Homo sapiens: one gene and its partners. The protein of the gene in region 1 interacts with the protein of each later gene in a pairwise test. Each region holds a gene or a part of one and is shown on either strand. Other genes may lie near its edges. The genes, in order: M1AP, OTX1, BAHD1, OTX2 and CWF19L2.

What was found.
Region 2: the proteins of M1AP (region 1) and OTX1 interact in binary tests that used the Homo sapiens proteins (3 or more experiments, as listed by UniProt).
Region 3: the proteins of M1AP (region 1) and BAHD1 interact in binary tests that used the Homo sapiens proteins (3 or more experiments, as listed by UniProt).
Region 4: the proteins of M1AP (region 1) and OTX2 interact in binary tests that used the Homo sapiens proteins (3 or more experiments, as listed by UniProt).
Region 5: the proteins of M1AP (region 1) and CWF19L2 interact in binary tests that used the Homo sapiens proteins (3 or more experiments, as listed by UniProt).

The regions. Positions count from the first base shown.
Region 1 is NC_000002.12:74,637,836-74,642,072, forward strand, and holds part of M1AP (meiosis 1 arrest protein), read right to left. Parts: intron 2,493-4,237; coding exon of another isoform or gene 2,441-2,492; coding exon 2,201-2,440; intron 1-2,200. UniProt on the Homo sapiens protein: Required for meiosis I progression during spermatogenesis.
Region 2 is NC_000002.12:63,055,578-63,058,565, forward strand, and holds the end of OTX1 (homeobox protein OTX1), read left to right. Parts: coding exon 1-739; 3' UTR 740-2,254; downstream 2,255-2,988. UniProt on the Homo sapiens protein: Probably plays a role in the development of the brain and the sense organs. Can bind to the BCD target sequence (BTS): 5'-TCTAATCCC-3'.
Region 3 is NC_000015.10:40,460,881-40,465,117, reverse strand, and holds part of BAHD1 (bromo adjacent homology domain-containing 1 protein), read right to left. Parts: intron 3,207-4,237; coding exon 2,824-3,206; intron 1,258-2,823; coding exon 1,098-1,257; intron 648-1,097; coding exon 571-647; intron 1-570.
Region 4 is NC_000014.9:56,803,490-56,807,726, forward strand, and holds part of OTX2 (homeobox protein OTX2), read right to left. Parts: intron 2,179-4,237; exon of another isoform or gene 2,087-2,178; 5' UTR 1,968-2,086; coding exon 1,871-1,967; intron 875-1,870; coding exon 699-874; intron 1-698. UniProt on the Homo sapiens protein: Transcription factor probably involved in the development of the brain and the sense organs. Can bind to the bicoid/BCD target sequence (BTS): 5'-TCTAATCCC-3'.
Region 5 is NC_000011.10:107,447,619-107,451,855, forward strand, and holds part of CWF19L2 (CWF19-like protein 2), read right to left. Parts: intron 1-4,237.

The DNA of each region.
Region 1 (4,237 bases):
ATGTACTGATCAGTACTCTGCTGAATACTCAAGGGGCACCCTCTTCAGGTCTTTATAGAGTTCTGTATGTAGCTCCTTCTCCTCTAGCTATTAATACCTTGGTCTCTCTGAAGTCCCAGATCCATCTCCTTGACTCAAGGAAACCACTGGCACCCGCCCCTAGGTTCTCCCTCTCTGCATTGTAGCTTAGAAACTTTCTCAAGGCAGTAAGCTGGGACAATTCTTTTTTTTTTTTTTGAGACGGAGTCTTGCTCTGTCACCCAGGCTGGAGTGCAGTGGCGCGACCTCGGCTCACTACAACCTCCGCCTCCAGGGTTCAAGCGATTCTCCCGCCTCAGCCTCCCGAGTAGCTGGGATTACAGGCAGCCGCCATCATGCCTGGATAATTTTTGTATTTTTGTAGAGGTGGGGTTTTACCATGTTGGCCAGGCTGGTCTTGAACTACTGACCTCAGGTGATCTGCAAGCTGGAACAATTCTAAGTCTCACCTCATTGACTTCCTATCACCCAGGGGGCTTTGTTCTTTGCTGCGTGATGTCCAGTGTTTTGAAAAGTGTTTTTCATAGGTTTTATCCAGTTTTTTTTTATTGTTTGAGGCAAGAGGGTAAATCAGCTTGCTGTTATTCTATCTAGGGTGGAACAGTGACTTGCTTCCAATGAACAGAATGTGGAGGAAGTGACAACATGTTACTTTTGAGACTAAGACATAAAAGGTATTTTGGCTTCTTCATTGCTCTCTCTCTCTTTTGGATCAGTCGTTCTGGGAGAAGCCCGCTGCCACAAATTAAGGACATTCAAGCAGCCCTTTGGAGAGATCCAAGTGGTCAGGAAACAAGAATTTCTGCCAACAGCTAAGTGAATACGCCATCTTGCAACTGGATCCTCCAGCCTCAATCAAGCTTTCAGATGACTGACATCTTGGCTACAATCTCATGAGGGACCCCAAGCCTGATCTACCTAAGCCACTTATGAATTCCTAACTCATAGTAACTATGAGATGATGTTTATTAATTTAGACCACTACATTTTGGGATAATTTGTTACACAGCAATAAACAATGAATAGAGGTACCAAATTCTGCTCAAACTGTAGAAAGGATCAGTTGAATTTCTTAAATAATTTTATCCTTTTCCCATCCCCAACCCAGCCTAAGTAACAATGCACAGACAAAATCCCCATACTTAGCACTGGAGCATTTATACTCAAAACTTTCCCTGTGTGACTTTTGTCAAGAAATAAACCATGAGTTGTTATAAGCCTAAGGTTCTGTCAAAGCAACCAGGGTATGTTCTAACTCAAGAAGCATGAAGTAATATATATTATTTTCATTCTTTATAGTATCAACAGAGATGTTATCTTTCCACTTCCAATGAGGGAAACTAAGGCATTAATAAAAAAATAGATTTCAGTCATATATTACATTCATAATTCAGCAATGGATTTATGAAATTTCCTCTTTTGGAAATCTTAAATAAGACTTATATCCATTTGATAACGTATATTAGCAGCAAGGCTACCTCAAGGAAGGAGATGCATAGAACCTCTGGAAGTCTTTCTCTTCACTATGATTCTGAATTTTATACAAGGGAGAAAGGGAAGATTGAAATTTTGAGGAGGAGCATAGATAATTGTTTATGTATGAAGGAGCTTTGTAAAGACACTGCCCCTGGCCCAGCCATTGCCTTCCATAACCCTAGGGGGCAGTTTCACCTGAGTCTATGTGGAATGTAGAAAAAATATTTTCATGTTTTTGCATAGTTAGGGCTTTCTGAGCAAAGAAAACTGGTACCTGGGTTAAAGGGCAAGTCTTGGAAGTTAAAAGATGATTGAATAGTCAGAGACCTCAGAAGAGATTTAGAGGCTTCCCTCCTTGTGTGTTTACATTTCAAAGGGCATAAAAGGAGTCAGTTGTTTACATTTCAAACATCTGTCAATGCCAAGGTTTCTCTCCCTCTCTCTGGAGTGGAGCTTGTAGCCTATTTATACTCCCAGATTAATAATTTTGGATTTTCTCTTCAACAGTACACACCCCTATATATGCAGGATGCCCTCTGGCTCTCATGGTGTTACTCGGGGGCTACTGTGTGTGGAGAAGTAGTGCGGTTATTGTTATAAGTATTAATAACTGTGATCTCTATTCCAGAAACCTTACCACTGTATTTGCTTTCAGGGTAAAATGAATAAATATAGATATACTTACCACAAAAGGGAGGATGCACTCATGCTGATCTTGTACCATGTATAAACTGAACAGGGACATGCGGCTGGGGCCCATCAAGCTGCAGGCTAGAGAGAAGAAGTTCTGCAGAGCCTCACAGAGGTTGGTGCAGATGTCAGCCCAGGACGGTAGAGCAATGTGCACAATGAGAAGCCGTGGAGGTTGCTGGTCAATCTGAGTGTGAGTAGAGGGCCCTTTACCAGTAGTTCGCCCAGGATGCATGGCAGCAAAACCAGAGGGGGAACTGTAGCCACCAGCTGGATATTCTTTACACCTATAGGGAAGGAAAGAGAAACCACTGGTTTTCAAACTGAATTATGTGTGCTCTGTTGAAATATAAAATACAAGTCGAGGGAAACAAATCCAGAAAGGAGTCAGATTGGGTACTAAAGCTTGTCCAGGCCATCCTATTTTTTTTTTTTTTTTGAGACAGAGTCTCGGTATGTCACCAGGCTGGAGCGCAGTGGTGCGATCTTGGCTCACTGCAACCTCTGTCTCCCAGGTTCAAGCGATTCTCCTGCTTCAGCTTCCCGAGTAGCTAGGACTACAGGTGCACACCACCACGCCCAGCTAATTTTTGTATTTTTAGAGATGGGGTTTCACCATGTTGGCCAGGATGGTCTTGATCTCTTGACCTCACGATCCGCCCGCCTTGGCCTCCCAAAGTGCTGGAATTACAGGCGTGAGCCACCGTACCTGGCCCAGGCCATCCTATTTTAACAGCTCCCAAGAGATCTAGATGTTTGCCTATCATGTAAGCCTGAGAATGCTTAGAGATGCTGAGTGGAACTAATCAAAAGTTACACCAAAAAACTCAAGCTTCTGTCTCAAAGTAAGCTATCTGCCCTCATAAACTTTGTTTCTTTATTGGCATTTATTGCACTCTATTACAATTTGTTTCTATGACTGCCTCTCCCACTATATTGTAAGCTTCCCAAGGGTAGAGAACCTGTCTTGTTGATATTATTCATCAATGCCTAGCATATGTGTGTTTAGTACCTAACGAATAATTCTTAAAAATGAAAATATGACTACATTTCTCCTTGGTTAAAATTCTTTGGTTGTCTGAATCTCTTATAAGGTAAAATTTAAACTGTCTTTAAGACCTGTCATTACTTAATTGTTAGCCTCATTAGAAATTGTTCTTCGCCTCAAGATTTTCACGGAAACAATACCAAATATATTCACTTTAGTGCATTTGCTCATGCTGCTTCTCTGCCTCCAATACTCCTGCCTTCTTTCTCTACTGGCTACTTATACTTATCCCCAGGACTCAGATTAGGAAGTGAGAACAATTGAGAACAAAGAACCAATATAAGGAATGAGAAAGGGACATCATCACAAATGCTCAAACGTGAAAAGGGTTATAGGAGGACATAATGAATAGCTTTATGCTAATAAGTTTGATAAAGTGGACAAATTCCTAGAAAAATGTATCTAACCAATACTAAAGAAATTTTAGAAACCTAAATAGTCTATAATCATTAAGGAAATGTAATTGGTAATCAAATATCTTCCCACAAGTAAGAGGGTCAGATGATTTCACTGATGAGCTCCATCAAACATGCAAAGACCAAGAATTTCAATCTTTTTTTTTTTTTTTGTAGAGATGGGGTCTTGCCATGTTGCCCAAGATGGTCTCAAACTCCTGGGCTCAAGTGATCCACCTGCCTCGGCCTCCTGAAGTGCTGGGATTACAGGTGTGAGCCACCGCGCCCAGCCAAGAATTTCAATCTTAAACAAATTATTTTAAGAACAGAAGAACATATATAACAGGATACACTCCTCAACTAATTTTTTTTTTTTTTTTAGATGGAGTTTCACTCTTGTTGCCCAGGCTGGAGTGCAATGGCATGATCTTGGCTCGCTGCAACCTCCGCCTCCCGGGTTCAAGCGATTCTCCTGCCTCAGCCTCCTGAGTAGCTGGGATTACAGGCATGTGCCACCATGCCTGGCTAGTTTTGTATTTTTAGTAGAGACAGGGTTTCTCCATGTTGGTCATGCTGGTCTCGAACTTCT
Region 2 (2,988 bases), about 12 Mb from region 1:
GAAGAAGTCCTCTCCAGTGCGGGAGAGCTCGGGCTCCGAAAGCAGTGGCCAATTCACGCCGCCAGCTGTGTCCAGCTCTGCCTCGTCCTCTAGCTCGGCGTCCAGCTCTTCCGCCAACCCAGCGGCTGCAGCGGCTGCGGGACTAGGTGGGAACCCGGTGGCGGCCGCGTCGTCGCTGAGTACACCAGCTGCCTCATCTATCTGGAGCCCGGCCTCCATCTCGCCAGGCTCAGCGCCCGCGTCCGTGTCGGTGCCGGAGCCATTGGCCGCGCCTAGCAACACCTCGTGTATGCAGCGCTCCGTAGCTGCAGGCGCCGCCACCGCAGCAGCCTCTTATCCCATGTCCTACGGCCAGGGCGGCAGCTACGGCCAAGGCTACCCTACGCCCTCCTCTTCCTACTTTGGCGGCGTGGACTGCAGCTCATACCTAGCGCCCATGCACTCACATCACCACCCGCACCAGCTCAGCCCCATGGCACCCTCCTCCATGGCGGGCCACCATCATCACCACCCACATGCGCACCACCCGTTGAGCCAGTCCTCAGGCCACCACCACCACCATCACCACCACCACCACCAAGGCTACGGTGGCTCTGGGCTTGCCTTCAACTCTGCCGACTGCTTGGATTACAAGGAGCCTGGCGCCGCTGCTGCTTCCTCCGCCTGGAAACTCAACTTCAACTCCCCCGACTGTCTGGACTATAAGGACCAAGCCTCATGGCGGTTCCAGGTCTTGTGAGCCCAGGAATGAAAGAGGAGAAGAAACGCAACTACCTGCGCCCTCCGTGGTCCCGATCCTGTTGCTGCTGCTGCACCGCCCGCCTTTGCCTCGTCTTCTCCAAAACTGAATTTTCACCCCCCAAAAAGATGTCCATTGCCTGCACTGCCGCCCCCATTTTTGTGCCACTTGCTTGGGGGGATGTGCAAACCCACCCTGCCCCTTGGATGGGGGGACCGGTGCTTCGGCTTGGCCTACACATTCTATACAGGAGAGATGTATTATTTCCCCCCTTCAGCCCCTACTAAACTCTTAAGCCTCCCCTTCCAGTCTTTCTGGACAGCTATTAAGCACTTGCAGCCTTCGGAGGCTCTGCGCTCTGATCCGCTGTTTGAGCCCAACACTTTAATTTATTCTTTCTGGACACTGGAGTCACTAACTGGCGTGTTTCTGCCCATTGGAGCACCCGCACACTACTCCAAATCAAAACCACTAAGAGTTCCTCCCGCGCAGACTGCTGCCCCTTCAGCTGCCCTCGATTTTGCTCCACGCCTGCCGGCCAGAGCCTCCCGGCGTTTCTTCCGCCCCAGCGGAGTGCGCTGGGGCGCGCCAGGGCTAGGCCCGCCGGAGGAGCGCGTCCCCAGCCTTCCGCGCACAGAGCCGCATCCCGCCCCGCCCTGCGCTGGACTGGTTCAAGCTTCCGCCTCGGCGGGAACGCTGTACATAGTCAGGTCCGTTCCAGGGACCACTTAAACTTTTTAGTTGCTGTTGGTTGGTTGAACTGAACATATCTTGTCTTAGCACCCAGGAAACAGAACTTTAAGATATATACAGCACATATATATATATATACATATATATATACACATATATAAAAAACAAAAGCAAAAAATATTTTCCCTCTGTCCGTCCCCCTTCTGCTCTTCCTCAATCAATGGCGCTTTTTCTTTTTCAGTTGTTGCAAAGCTGCCCTGCCCTCTTCACATCTTCTCCCTCTGTGTATTTATTGAAGAGAACCGCTTGGTTTCAGGAAGCTGGGCGCGGGATATCCGAAGTGTGGAGGAAACAGACAAGTCAGGGTACAGAGGTGGGGGTTGGGCAGGGGCGCAGGGCTGACCCCCTCACCCGGTCTAAGCACAGGGTCGCAGTTCCAGTTTACAAACCTAAAACAAGAAAACCAAAACCAGGGAACAAAACAACAAAACAAAACAAAATCCGTAAAAGTACAGCATTAGGGAAAAACAAACAAACCCAGGCCCCAAACCCAGTTCCAACTCCTCTGTCGGCTTCTCTCTTTCAACACCCTTGTTTTGTCTAGTGAGTTTTTAGTGCACCTTCGTTCTCCGAAATCTGCGGAGAGCCCGCGCGCCTGTGTATCAATTTTGGCTTTGGCCGCTTCGTCCAGTAGGTGGGAAAGTAATTTGTAAATTTGATTTGTCTGATGTGAAGATCACAAATTACTTGTTGAAATGTAAGGCAGTCCCCCTCCTCCTCTTTATCTACATTACTTCCCGAAAATAAATGCAAATTAATGAACGGCTTGTCAGTGTTGCTCTTCTGATTCCAGCCCGAGGTCCTGGTCTCGGGGGGCTAAAAGCGAGGGAAACTCCGTGTTAATAACCCGCGTGTTAATGACCTGCGTGAAGCTGGAGGCCAAAGGATGAGGCGGGAGGACTTGGCAAGAGAAGTCCCCAGAAACTTTCGCTTAGGGAGTGTCTCCCCCCACCCCCACCACGCCCCTCCGCGTCAGCCTGGCCTCTTCCCCCAGGCGTTTTGACCCCGCATCCCCCCTCGCCATCCAGGACAGAGACAGGTGTCAGGACTCAATTCCCGAAGCAATTCCTTTCTCTTCAGAGGCAGGAGCCTGGCACTGATTTCTTCACCCTAATTGCCTGCACCAGAAAGAAGAGGGGGAGGGGAAGAGGGTCGGGAGGCGGGAAAGGATAGCTCTGTAATGCTCTCAGAGCTGAGCCAAAAAGGAAAAGAAAGCAAAACGACAAAAAACTGATCCGTGTCCTGCATGTTGGCAGCAGACAACCTTCCTTGCTGCTGAGCTGTCCCGGGTGGCTTCACCGCGGCTGGGGAATCCGAGCCATTCCTTCCACGTGCTAAGATGTCCCTCTAAGCCCTCAGCTCCTGCCAGAAGTAGCCAAATTACCTTTCTTCGTACTGTAAACTTCCTTTAAAACATACAAACTCATAACCTGGAAAAGTCGACAAGGACGCCTTTCACTTTGGCAGGGGAAGAAGACGACTGGCTTGCATCTGGG
Region 3 (4,237 bases), on another chromosome or scaffold:
CTCTAGCCCCTGATTGTCACTGACCTCCCAAACCCCAGCCCTGCCTAGCGTAGGAGAGGGGAAATGTTCTTCATCTTTCCAGTTAGATGGAAAGTCCCTGCAAGGGAAAGTGAAATAAAAGGTGAGCCCAGGGCACACACAGATGGCAGTCACCTCTTTTAGCACACAGCTTGGTGGAGAGCCTATGGGGTGTTAGGAGGAGTCTTTCCTCCCCTCCCCTCCCCTACTACAGAAAATACCAAAAGTGACCAGGTATGCAGCTCCACCTCACCTTTCCTGTTTCCAGGGGAACACATCCACTTGCTCCCATTGGCACCTGCTACCTCAAGGGTTCCCTTTCTGTTCCTCTTTTTAAGACAAAGGTTATTATTCCCTTTGAAACATGAATTGGGGCAGTGTTGGGAAAAGAGAATAAATCCTGGGCCCTTTCCCAGGTTCTCTGGAGTCCAAAGTGACAAGCGCAGGGATTTGACTACAGCCCATGGCTGCCCTCCCCCTACCACGTCTTAGTGCCATAACCTTTCCCTCTGTCTCTCCTGCCCTCCCTGACCCATCTGCCAGGCAGCTCACCTCGTGCATGCTGGGACTGCGGCCTCCCTGTAAGTGCTCAGGTCTGTAATACCACAGGAGGCTCATCATCAGCTCTCCTGGAAGGACAACACAGTGGTTATGGCTTGAACTGGCAACCTGAGTTACTTAGACAGGCAGAGAGGCTGGCTGGCTGCCCTGGAGGTTCATCCAACCTCAATCCTGCAGGCTCCGGCAACCCATGTCCCCTGCCCCAGGCCAAGCATTCAGAGGCCTGGAATGCTGTTAGGCATGGAGGGAGAAGGGGGAGAAGGCACTGACAGGTGAGGTGGGGGGACAGGTGCCCAGGCTCTGCTGGCTGGAAAGGTTAATGAGCTGATCCAACCCAAGCCACAAGGTCACCCACAGCCCTCGGCAGCAGAGAGACCCCAGCCGAGTGGAAGGCAGACTCTGTGCCAGGAACACGGGGAGACTCACGCCAGGTCAAACTCCAGGCAGGGGCCAATCTGGGGACTACAGTTCTGCTGAAGGCAGCTGCCCCTTGGGTCCCCAGCCAGAGGGAGAGGTACCTGACTCGGGGTTCTCCCAGAGGGCAGAGATCTTGGCCACATAAGGTGTGGAGGTCTTTCGTGGGCCTGATTTGAGAAGGACGGTGTCCCGGACTCGGATTGTCTCCCCATGCCGCTCTACCGCCTGGTAGCTCTTTCGGATGGCTGGCTCCGGCTCATCCTAGGCAACAAACCAATGACACAAATAGGCTTGCAGAGCCACACTCAGAGTAAGGACAGAGAGAGGGAATGACATCCTTTCCACGATTTCCTCAAGATAGTCAAACCACTACCTTGGTTTTGTCAAACCACTATCCTTTTTTGGATGGGGCTGGGGAATTCTCATGGTTGGAGAAAGGATGAGAAAAGGGAATAGGGGTGGAAAAGTGGCCTGAAGCTTCTGGGGCTGAGCTCTGACCACCATACCCGACAGCTGACTCTCACTCCAAGACCCCCAGTGCTGGGTAAGTGCTCATGCTTCCTAATGGAACAAGTCTCGGTCTGAACCCTTAAACCACTGTTATAAGGGGCACAGCCTTTGACAAATTATTTAAAGTATTGCTAAGCCTCAGCTTCCACATCTGTAAAATGGGATTAATTATAGGAAGATGGGATATATACCACATAGGGTAGTGGTGAGGATTAAAGGGCATAATACTTACAAAATGCTTAGCTCAGTTCTGGCATCTAAGAAGTGCTCAATAAATTTTATGTATTTATGTATTTATTTATTTTTAGAGACAGGGTCTCACTCTGTCACCCAGGCTGGAATGCAGTGGTGCAACCATAGTTCACTGCAGCCTCAACCTCCTGGACTCAAGTGATCCTCCTGCCTCAGACTCTCAAGTAGCTGGGACTACAGATGCATGCTACCATGCCTGGCTAATTAAAAAAATTTTTTTTCTGTAGACAGGATCTTGCTATGTCGACCAGGTTGGTCTTGAACTCCTGAGCTCAAACAATCCTCTAGCATCAGCCTCTGAAAGCTCTGGGATTATATGCATGAGCCACCTTGCCCAGCCTCAATAAATTTTAGTTAATATTCTTTTTGTTTTTAATTAATTAATTTTAAAAGCCAGGGTCTCTCTGTCACCCAGACTGGAGTGCAGTGGTGCAATCAGCTCACTGCAGCCTTGAACTCCTGGACCTAAGCAATCCTCCCACTTCAGCCTCCTGGTGCACACCACCATGCCTGGCTAACTAATGTTTTTACTTTGTAGAGATGAGGTCTATATTGCTCAGGCTCGTCTTGAACTCCTGGCCTCATGCGATCTTACCACTTCCACCACCTAAAGTACTGGGATTACAGATGTGAGCCACCGCACTTGGCCTCTTTTCATCATCCGAGATGTTCTCTGTGTCACTAATTTTCTCTGCCCATTCCAACGCCCCCTATATAGACTTATCCAGAAAAGTTCTCCATTGAAAGTCCTCCACTTTACAATCCAGGGTGTAAGGGACAAAGTGAGCAGGGAGGGGAGGGGAAGACACTCACCGAGATGGCAGCCACCAGCTATGACTGTGTGTCTCCTGACCTCCCTGGGGTGTCTGGTACAGGATCAGTAGGGGGCTAGGGAAGCAAGCTGGGTGGGCCAGCATGACTGGTTCCTGGGGTACAAGTAAACTGGAGTCCCTTGTCAGCTCTCAGAGTAGCTAGAACCAGGTGCTTCTAGCACCTACCTCACTGCAGGTCATGTGTCCCCACTGCCTCCCTCCCTCTCGTCATCAGCTAAGAGCTAGCACTTACCAAGACATACACAGCCTTCTCACACGCAGCCCCAACAGGTACCCAGCCATTAGTGCGGCGGCGACGGCGGCGGCGAGGGCGTGGGCGCTGGACACGTGGCTGCTTGGGGTGGCTAGGCCTGCGGGCAGCCTTGCTCCTTGCAGTGTGCCTGCAGCTGGAGCCTGTGCGCAGACCTGACTTAGAACCGCTGGGAGGTTTGGCGCTCTGAGGGCACGCACGGGCTACTGTCTGGGGCTCCGAGGTGGGTGTCTGAAGATGGGGGACGGGCTCTGCTGCAGGTGGCACACTGGGTACAGGGCACCCCAGGAGTGGGTGGGCGGGTGAGGCTGGGTGGCCAGCTTCCGGGAGAGGAAATTCCAACTGGCCCAGGGATCTGCAGCCTTCTAGGAAAGGGAGAGAGTGGTCAGGACAGGACAAGCAGTGACCCCCATCACCCATCTGCTTTCAGAGCCTGCTCCTGTCTTAATTCTAACTGTGCAACCAAAGGCCACTGAGGTGGCCGATGGGATCAGAGGCCTTTTTATGGTGGACTGTCAGAGTGACTCTCTAAGGGGACAGGGGTGTTTCCTGATCTTGGAGATTGGCCATCTCCCCTTTTAGTCTGAAAGAGAGGTGGTTGGAACATCCTTTTTAACTCCGAACTTTTTTTTTTTTTGAGACAGAGTCTCGCTCTGTTGCCCAGGCTAGAGTGCAGTGGTGCTATCTTGGCTCACTGCAACCTCCGCCTCTCGGGTTCAAGCATTTCTCCTGCCTCAGCCTCCTGAGTAGCTGGGATTACAGGTGCCCATCACCACACCCAGCTAATTTTTTTGTATGTTTAGTAGAGATAGGGTTTCACCATGTTAGACAGGCTGGTCTCAACCTACTGAGCTCAGGCAATCTGCCCGCCTCAGCCTCCCAAAGTGCTAGGATTACAGGCATGAGCCACCGCGCCTGGCCCTGATATTAATTTTCTAAGGCTTTCATAATGCTTGGGAATAGGGGTTCTAGAATCAGCCTGGGTTCTGCCACTTACTAGCCATGTGACTTCAGGCAAGTCACTCTGCCCCTCAGAGCAACTGGCTGGTTTTCTTACGAACACATTAACTCATTTCATCCTTACAAAAACCCTGTGAGATAGGTATCATTACACCCATTTTATAGTTAAGAAAACTGAGACACAGAGCAGTTACTGACTCGCCCATAGTCACATGGCTAGGAAAGTGGGGGAGAACATTTCACTCCAGGCAGTCTGGCTTCGGAGTCTGTGCTCAATTACATGCCAAGCAGCCTCCCATATGTAAAGCACTCAGAACAGTGCCTGGTACATGGTGTTTACTGGTGTCCTTATTATTAGGGAGAGGGGATAAGGGTCTAGACTTGGGGAATGGCACAAAAAAAGAAGGAAAACCCCAAGCAGCAGCCTGTTCTCATG
Region 4 (4,237 bases), on another chromosome or scaffold:
GGTGTGTATGTGGTTTATGTGCTAAACACTTTGCAGAGAATTCTGTACAGGGCTCACTCACAAGGCAAGCTGGAGTTGACCTTCCCTCTCCAGTTTAAGGTCAAGTTTAGGGGAACTAAAACAAGAGGGGTGTCACTAGAGACATTATGTAGATATTTTATCTGTTAAATGGCTCAGAACTAGAAAATTCTCTTCAATCCCTAAGAAGTCAAGGAAAATACATTCTTTTTGTGTTGATTTATTTGGTAAAAGCACCAGCTGCGTCTATACCCTGACTCTGCCACCAAACTTAGTTATGACCTTGAGCAAGTCATTTACTCTATTTTTTCATCTGTAAAAATACTTGGACTGTCCAAGAGCTAAGCTGCTTTCACACGTACAAGTCCATGAGAATAGGAGAGGATTTCTATACAGAGGAAGGGAAGGGTTACAACACCACGTGACTACTCTTGAAACCTGCTCAAGGATGGGTCTCTCTCCACCAGCAACCCGGGCCTTGAAGACCCTTGCTTACGGGATTAAGTGGTGACGGGCAGGCAAAAAAGGGCAGAAGGAGAATAGTTTCCTGGCCCCTTAGTGAGTGAAGGAGAATTTCAAGCCTTCCTTCAGTCCTCTGAAAGACCTGGGGCTCTCCACAGTCCCATACTCGGGAAGGGTGGCATGATCAGGAAGGATGGTTCTGCCTGCATCTGCCCTACCTGCACCCTCGACTCGGGCAAGTTGATTTTCAGTGCCACCTCCTCTCGCATGAAGATGTCTGGGTACCGGGTCTTGGCAAACAGTGCTTCCAGCACATCTAGCTGCGCCCGAGTGAACGTCGTCCTCTCCCGGCGCTGTTTCCGGGGGGTGGCTGCGGGACAAGAAGCCCAGGGCCCTTTAGGGTGGGGGAGCAGTTTCTCAGTCATAGGCGTTTCCGCGGGTTCTCCGACGCCCCTGCCCTCCACCCCGCAGCAGTCCCCCGTTCCTCACAGCCCTTCAGCCGGGAGCCTACCAATGCTCTCCCCACCGTCTCCCCAGCCTTGCTCCCCGGGGACCCAGGACACACGCTGCTTCTTTCCCTACTCTTCTTGGTGTTGAGATTGCTCCAATCAGAGCATCACTTGGAAAGTTAACAAATGAAACATTTTTTAAAAGACACACAAAAAAGTTCTCCAAGATCAACCCCCAAACCACAACACAAAAAGGCTATTCCAAGAAGTCAAAGGATCTCCGAGGACAGACTGGCAGCTCGAATTGATGGGGGAAATCTGGATCCTGTTCCCATGGTTTTTAGCACACCATGGGCCTTTGTTCCTCCATCTTTAAAATGGGGACATAGTTCATACTCCTGGGAGGATTTTTAAACATATCTGATTGGAAAGGAAAGCACCCGCATTTGGAGGAAGTCACGCCTCTTGGGATTAAAGCAGGCTCTGGAGGTCATAGGGGAAGGCCTGGGCATGGAGGGAACAACTGCGAAGCCCGAGAGTGCTAAGGACTTACGGAGGGAAAACTCAGCTTCTCCAAGAGGACACTTCTGAGGAATTGGTCATTGAGATATGGGTAGGGGTCTTTTGCCCAAATGACAAGGACAGTAACCTTCCTCATCCCACTCTGATGCCAATCCTTATTTACTCGAATTAAGAATAAAGTGATGTGATTGTAACGGTTGCAGACCCACCTACTCACTTTTCCCAACCCCTGTTCTCTGCTTGGTCAGTAAATGCCCTGGGACTGCTTCCTCAGAAGGCAAACCTAGAGGAGACCAAGCCTGAAGCTGGGTGGGGACAGTGTGACTGCCAACCCCCGTGTTCCATGGGAACAGGGTGTTGCATCCCCGGAGGGTGGGCATGGGGAAGAGGGGTGCGGGAGTGCAGCAGGGCTCACTTACCCGGGTAGCCCACGGAGGGGTGCAGCAAGTCCATACCCGAAGTGGTCAGACTCAGCCCATTGACTGCGTAAGGCGGTTGCTTAAGATAAGACATCATGCTAAGGTTGTTTGGAGGTGCAAAGTCGGCCCAAATCGGGGGTACCCAGCTGGAAGATCTTGATGCGCCCGGGGTGGACAGGTTCAGAGTCCTTGGTGGGTGGGTTTGGAGCAGTGGAACTAAGGGCAAAGCAAACAAACAAACAGAGGGGCTGGTTTACTGCTTCGGAGGCAGCAGCTCTTCCACGTTCCAGCACTAACTTAAAAAGAGCACGGACTAGGCGAGGCAGAGGCTTTTAAAGGACTTGCAGACACTCCCCCCACCCCCATCCCCACCCCCACCCCCAGCTGCTCTGGAACTAGAGGGGATGGAAGGAGACCAGATAAACCTGTCTTCCCCACCCCCACCCTAAACTTAAAAAAAAAAAAAAAGTACCCGAAGAAAGCAATTACAATCTGCCTTCCCCAAGAACAAAAACCCGTGCCTTCAAATGCACACATTGCATTCCTATCCCTACATTTGCATAGGACTCATTGGCTGGCACTAGCTAATTGTCTCAAACAAAACTTGATTGGGGCCATTTGCAGAGACAAAGAACTCTTTGGCTAAATAAATAATGCTGATAACAAAGCCCATTGGTGAGAAACAAAGAAACAATTCAAGAAATCTACCTCTCCCCAGACTGTTGCCTTTCCATGGCAGAGATTTTAATTATCTTAGCTTTTTACCACTTTCAACTGCTGCGAACCTAAAATGTCAGTGCGTTTAACATCTAAAATACCAACTCACTAAACCACAAACTTGGAAAAACCGCTCAACCACTATTATTCCACATTTGAAGTCATTTCCGGTAATCATTTTCACCTAATTAGTAGTCTGGGTAATTAGATTTCGAGGTAAGTAACAGATTTATTAGGGTTTTGGAGAATCTTGATTATATGTGTCTAAGGAACGAAAGCTAAACAAACAAGTATTTAACTTTTAATAGACACCCATCAAATATTTAAGCATATTCCAAAAAAGTCTTCAAGATTGGCACAGGGCTTGCCAGAAATTGTGAAGTAAAGTTAGAATCCCACCAATCAGATAATGACGGGACCCCACATTTGTAGTGCAAGCTGCTTCCATGTTGATTTTGATGTGTGGAGGCTGCAGATCCTGCGGGAGGCAAATTTTCAGACATTTGGGTCCTCGGCAGCTGCAGCAGAGTTTCCTGTTAACTCTAACTGCCTTTTGCACATTTTAGTTTTGAAGAAAGTAGATACACAAACACCCAAAGTTGTGAAACTAGTAGAATTTCTCCCTACCTTTCAAGTTTCCTACAATCCTATAAGAAAAAGAGCTCAAGGGGGAAAAGAAAGGAAGAAAAAGAAAAGTTATTTACTTTCTTCAGCTGAGCTCCCCGCCTCCACCCCAGCAAAGAGATTCAAAGTAGATGTTAATATAGACTGGCAGTTTGCAAGTCTGGCCTTTATTTTCCTAAAATGTGGCACTTATATGCAAGGATCTCTACTTTGAAACTTTGACACCATGAGAGATTGCTTCAAAATGGCGGATACAAGATAAAGGTCTCACTGACTTTAAAGGACTCCGGGTTTTCATATTTACGTTGCTTAAGACAGCAAGGCACAAAAGTCCATAAATGAAACTTAGTAACTGCAACTTCTTTCTGATTTAAATTCAGAGCACAAAAGTCATGCTTTTCTACCCTAAGATCTAACTTAATATAATTTTATAAATGTCTTTCTTGGAGGAGTTTGTATTATCCTCAGTACAACTAATTTAGTTGCCCCTACAATACAGACTTTATGTTTTTGTATTGTCTTTTCTTTTCAAAATGCTGTTCTTTGGAGGCTGCGAAAATAAACAAAAATCTCCAGCTTAGAGGCTGTTTAAACACATATGCGACAGCTTTAAAATACAGTTGTATATGTGTTTAAACAGCCTCTAAACTGGAGATTGGAGATTTTTTGTTTAATCGTACTACCTTGCAAAATTCTGAACTACAGTGCTATAGAGAATCGTAAAATCATATCAGATGTACCCTTGAGAAATATGGAAATGTTCTTACATGTAGAGCTCTCACCCAATTAGAAATGCCTGACACATCATACAATAAAGTAGCACATTCCAACATAAAAAGCCAGTAACACACAGAAAGCACCAGGGCCGAGATCCTTCCAGGGGCTCCTTTGCCCTTACCATTGCAAAATGGCTAAAATTCTCAAAATAGACTATTTTCACTTTTGCTCCTGGATCCACCTTTAAAAGGAAAAGAGGAAAACCAAAACCCAAAACTAAGAGATTCTCTCCACAACCGGCCTAGGTAT
Region 5 (4,237 bases), on another chromosome or scaffold:
AAACTTAAAAACAATCCTTGAAAAGGATTAAGCTAATTCACAAGTAATTAACTGTATGCCAAAAGGAAACTCAATACTCTCTGAAGAAGTCAACAAAATCCAGCAGTCACAATATAAGTTTCATAGGGTTCAGCATCCAATTAAAAGTTACTAGACATTCAAAGAAGCAAGCAAATGTGACCCATATTCAAGAGAAAAATCATTTAATTGAAACAGAACAGGAAAAAACAAGAGAAAATGAAACAGCAAACCAAGACTTTAACACAGCTATCATAAATATGTTCAAGGAAGGGAAAATGTAAAGATAATGAGGAGATAAACTGAAAAACATTAGAAAGATCCAAACGAAACATCTAATGATAAAAAAAAAATACAGTACCTGAAATGAAAATGTCACTGGATAGGGATAACAGTAAGCTAGACACAGCAAAAGAAAAGGCCAGTCGGCCAGGCGCAGTGGCTCACACCTGTAATCCCAGCACTTTGGGAGGCTGAGGCAGGCAGATCACGAGGTCAGGAGATCCAGACCATCCTGGCCAACATGGTGAAACCCCATCTCCACTAAAAATACAAACAATTAGCTGGACGTGGTGATGAGCACCTGTAATCCCAACTACTCAGGAGGCTGAGGGACGAGAATCACTTCAACCCAGGAGGCGGAGGTTGCAGTGAGCTGAGATCACGCCACTGCACTCCCGCCTGGCAACAGAGCGAGACTCCGTCACAAAAAAAAAAAAAAAAAAAAAAAAAGGCCAGTAAACCTGAAGCTCACGACATAGCAATAAAATATACCCAACCCAAGGCATAGAAAGGAAAAAGGCTAGAAAGTAAGTGAACACAGGCTCATCAACCTGTGAGACATTATTTTAAGGAGACTACCAAAATGAGAGGGAACAGAAAAAAAAAATACTTCGAAAAAAGCCTGAAAGTTTCATATTTGATGGAAACTGTAAACTCACAAATCAAAGCAGCACAATGAACCTAAGGCAGATGCTACACTCTGAATGTTTGTGTCCCCCACCAAATTCTTATGTTGAGATCCTGACTCCCAAGACAATGATAATAGGGGCTGAGGCCTTTGGGAGATGACTGGGAATGGGATTAGTGCCCTTATAAAACATAGCCCAAGAGCACTCCCTTCTGCCATATGAGGTTAGAGTGAGAAGACAGCCATCTCTGAGGAACTGAACCCTCATCAGACACAAAGTCTACCAGCGCCTCGATCTTAGACTTTCTAGCCTCCCAAACTGTGAGAAATAAGTTTCTGTCATTTATAATCCACCCAGTTAGTTTTGGTATAGCAGCCCAAATGAACTAAGACAGTAGAATAAACACAAAGAAATCAATACCAAGACATATCACAATTGATTCACTGAAAAATAATGATGAAAAAAAAAGCCCTAAAAGCATCCAGAATAAAAAGGCACACTACATACAGAGAAAAAATATTACAATGACTACAGAGTTCTCAATATGTACAATGCAAACCAGAAGACAATGGGATGACATTTTACAGTGCAAAAAAAAAAAAAAAAAGAAAACACTATAAACTTAAAATTCTTTATCTAGCCAAGTATCTGAAAAATGAAGATTGCTAGTAGGAACTTCTGAGTTTGTGGTAAAAGAAAAAAAGAATGAAGATGAAATAAAAGAAATTTTCAAACAAAAGCTGAGAGAATACAATGTCTGCAAATCCATATTATAATACATGTTAATGAAAGTTCTACAGACAAAAGGAAAATGGTATTAGACAGAAATTCAGACCTACATAAAATAATAAAGAATATCAGAGATGATAAATCTGTGGGTAAATATAAAAGACTTTCTTCATATGTGTAACTTATTTAAAAGATAACTGACTAAAGTATAAATAAAAAGAATGTATGACATTAAAAATTATAAACAATGTGGGTTTATAACATATGTAGAAGTAAAATATATGACAACAATAGCAAAAAATATGGTAGGAGAAAATGGAAGTATATTTTGGTGAAAGTCTAATTATAAAAGTAAAATTATATATTATTTGAGAGTATGGTAAGTTAAAATATGCATAAGACTTAAAGCAGTCATTAAAAATAAATAAGGTATACCTAATAAGCCTACAGCAGATGAAATGGGATGCTAAAAAACACTCGATCCAAAAGACAGGAAAAGGAAGGAACAAAGGAAAAAAGAACAAAGAAAAAATAGAAAAGGAATAACAACATGGTAGACTTAAACTCATCCATATCAATTATTACATTAAACATAAATAATCCAAACCAGTACTATTCAAAGAATTTTTCTATATACTGTCGAATATAGTAGCCACATAAATTTGGCTGATATAATTTTAATGAATTTTAACAAAAAATTTAAAAGCCATAAACAGCTAACAGATTAGAGAGCACAAAAAACATCTAATTGAAAAGTAAGAGACGTGAGCCAAGATTGCGGCACTGCACTCCAGCCTGGGTGACAGTGTGAGACTCCATCTCAAGAAAAAAAAAAAAAAGGAAGAGGCCAGATGCAGTGGCTCACATTTGTAATTCCAGCACTTTGGGAGTCCCAGGTGGGAGGATTGCTTAAGGTCAAGACTTTGAGACCAGGCTGGGCAACATGGCAAAACCACATCTCTACAAAATATATATAGATCATAGGCTAGAATATAAAATGTCTCAAAAACTTTTTAACAACTGAAATTATACAGAGTACAATAAAATAATAATTAAATCCAAAGTCAATAACCAAAAAAACCTAATAAAATCCACAAATATCTGGAAATTTAAAAACTCATATATATATATCCTGGACGTCGAAGTGCACACCCGTAGTCCCAGCTTTCAAGAGGCTGAGGTGGGAGAGTCACTTGAGCCCCAGGGGTTGAAGCTGCAGTGATCTACTACACTCTAGCCTGGGCAACAAAGCAAGACTCTGTCAATCAATCAATAAATCAATCAATCAATAAAATAAAAAAGAAGAAATTGATAGGCGAGATAAAAAAGCAAGACCCAATTATACACTGCTTACAAGAAATACACTTTCAATATATAAAAAAGGTACATTAAAACTAAAAGAATTTTAAAAAGACGATGAAAACACACAAAAAAAGAAAACTGAAGAGGCTTTATTAATATGAGATACAAGAGACTTCAGACAAGAGTATTACCAAAGATAAAAACGAAAACTTCGTAACAACAGTCAGTTCATCAAGGAGCTGTCTATGTACCTAATAAAGCTTCAAAATTACATAAGGCAAAAACTGACAAAACTGAAAGCAGAAATAGGTAAAATCCACAAAACAATTAAGAGATTTCAATACTATTTTCTCAGTAACTGACTGAACAGGTGAACAGAAAATCATTAACACTAAACTTAATACTATTAGTCAACTTTCCCTAATTGACATTTATAAAACACTATACCTAACAATGGCAGAATACATACTCATTTCAAATACATATGGAATTTTCACCAAAATAGATCATAGGCTAGAAAATAAAATGTCTCAAAAACTTTTTAAAAACTGAAATTATACAGAGTATAACATAATAATTAAAATCAAAGTCAATAACCCAAAAAAAAACTAGAAAAATCCACAAATATCTGCAAGTTTAAAAACTCTTATATATCCATGAGTAAGAAAAAGTAAAGTAAAAAATATTTTGAATGGGACAGCAATGAAAATATAACATCAAAGTTACGTAGAGATACAACAGTGCTATGAGAAAATTTTATAAAATAAATACACGTTAGAAAAGATTTCAAATCAGTGGCGATACATTCATCTTAGAAAGTTAGAAAAAGAAGAGCAAATTAAACACAAAGTATTCGCAAAGAATAAATATAGTTTAAATCAATGAAATAGAAAACACACAACCAGAGAAAATTCAAGGAAACTAAAAGGCAATAAAGAAAGATTAATAAAACTGATAAGCCTCAAGACAGACTGACAGAGGAAACAAACAGAAAATAGAAATTACCAAAATCAGGGATGAAAGAGGGGTATCACTATGGATTCCGTAAACATTAAAAGAACAAAGGAAATATTACAAATAACTTTATGACAATAAATTTGACAATTTCTATGGAATAAATTCCCAGAAAAACCGAAATTACTAAAACTAACTCAAGAATAAACAGAAAGTATTTAACACAACTATTAAAGGAATTAACTCTGTCGTTAAACCCATTCCACAAAGAAACTCCAGGACCAAACCGTTTCACTGGCAAATTTTAACACTTATAGATGCAA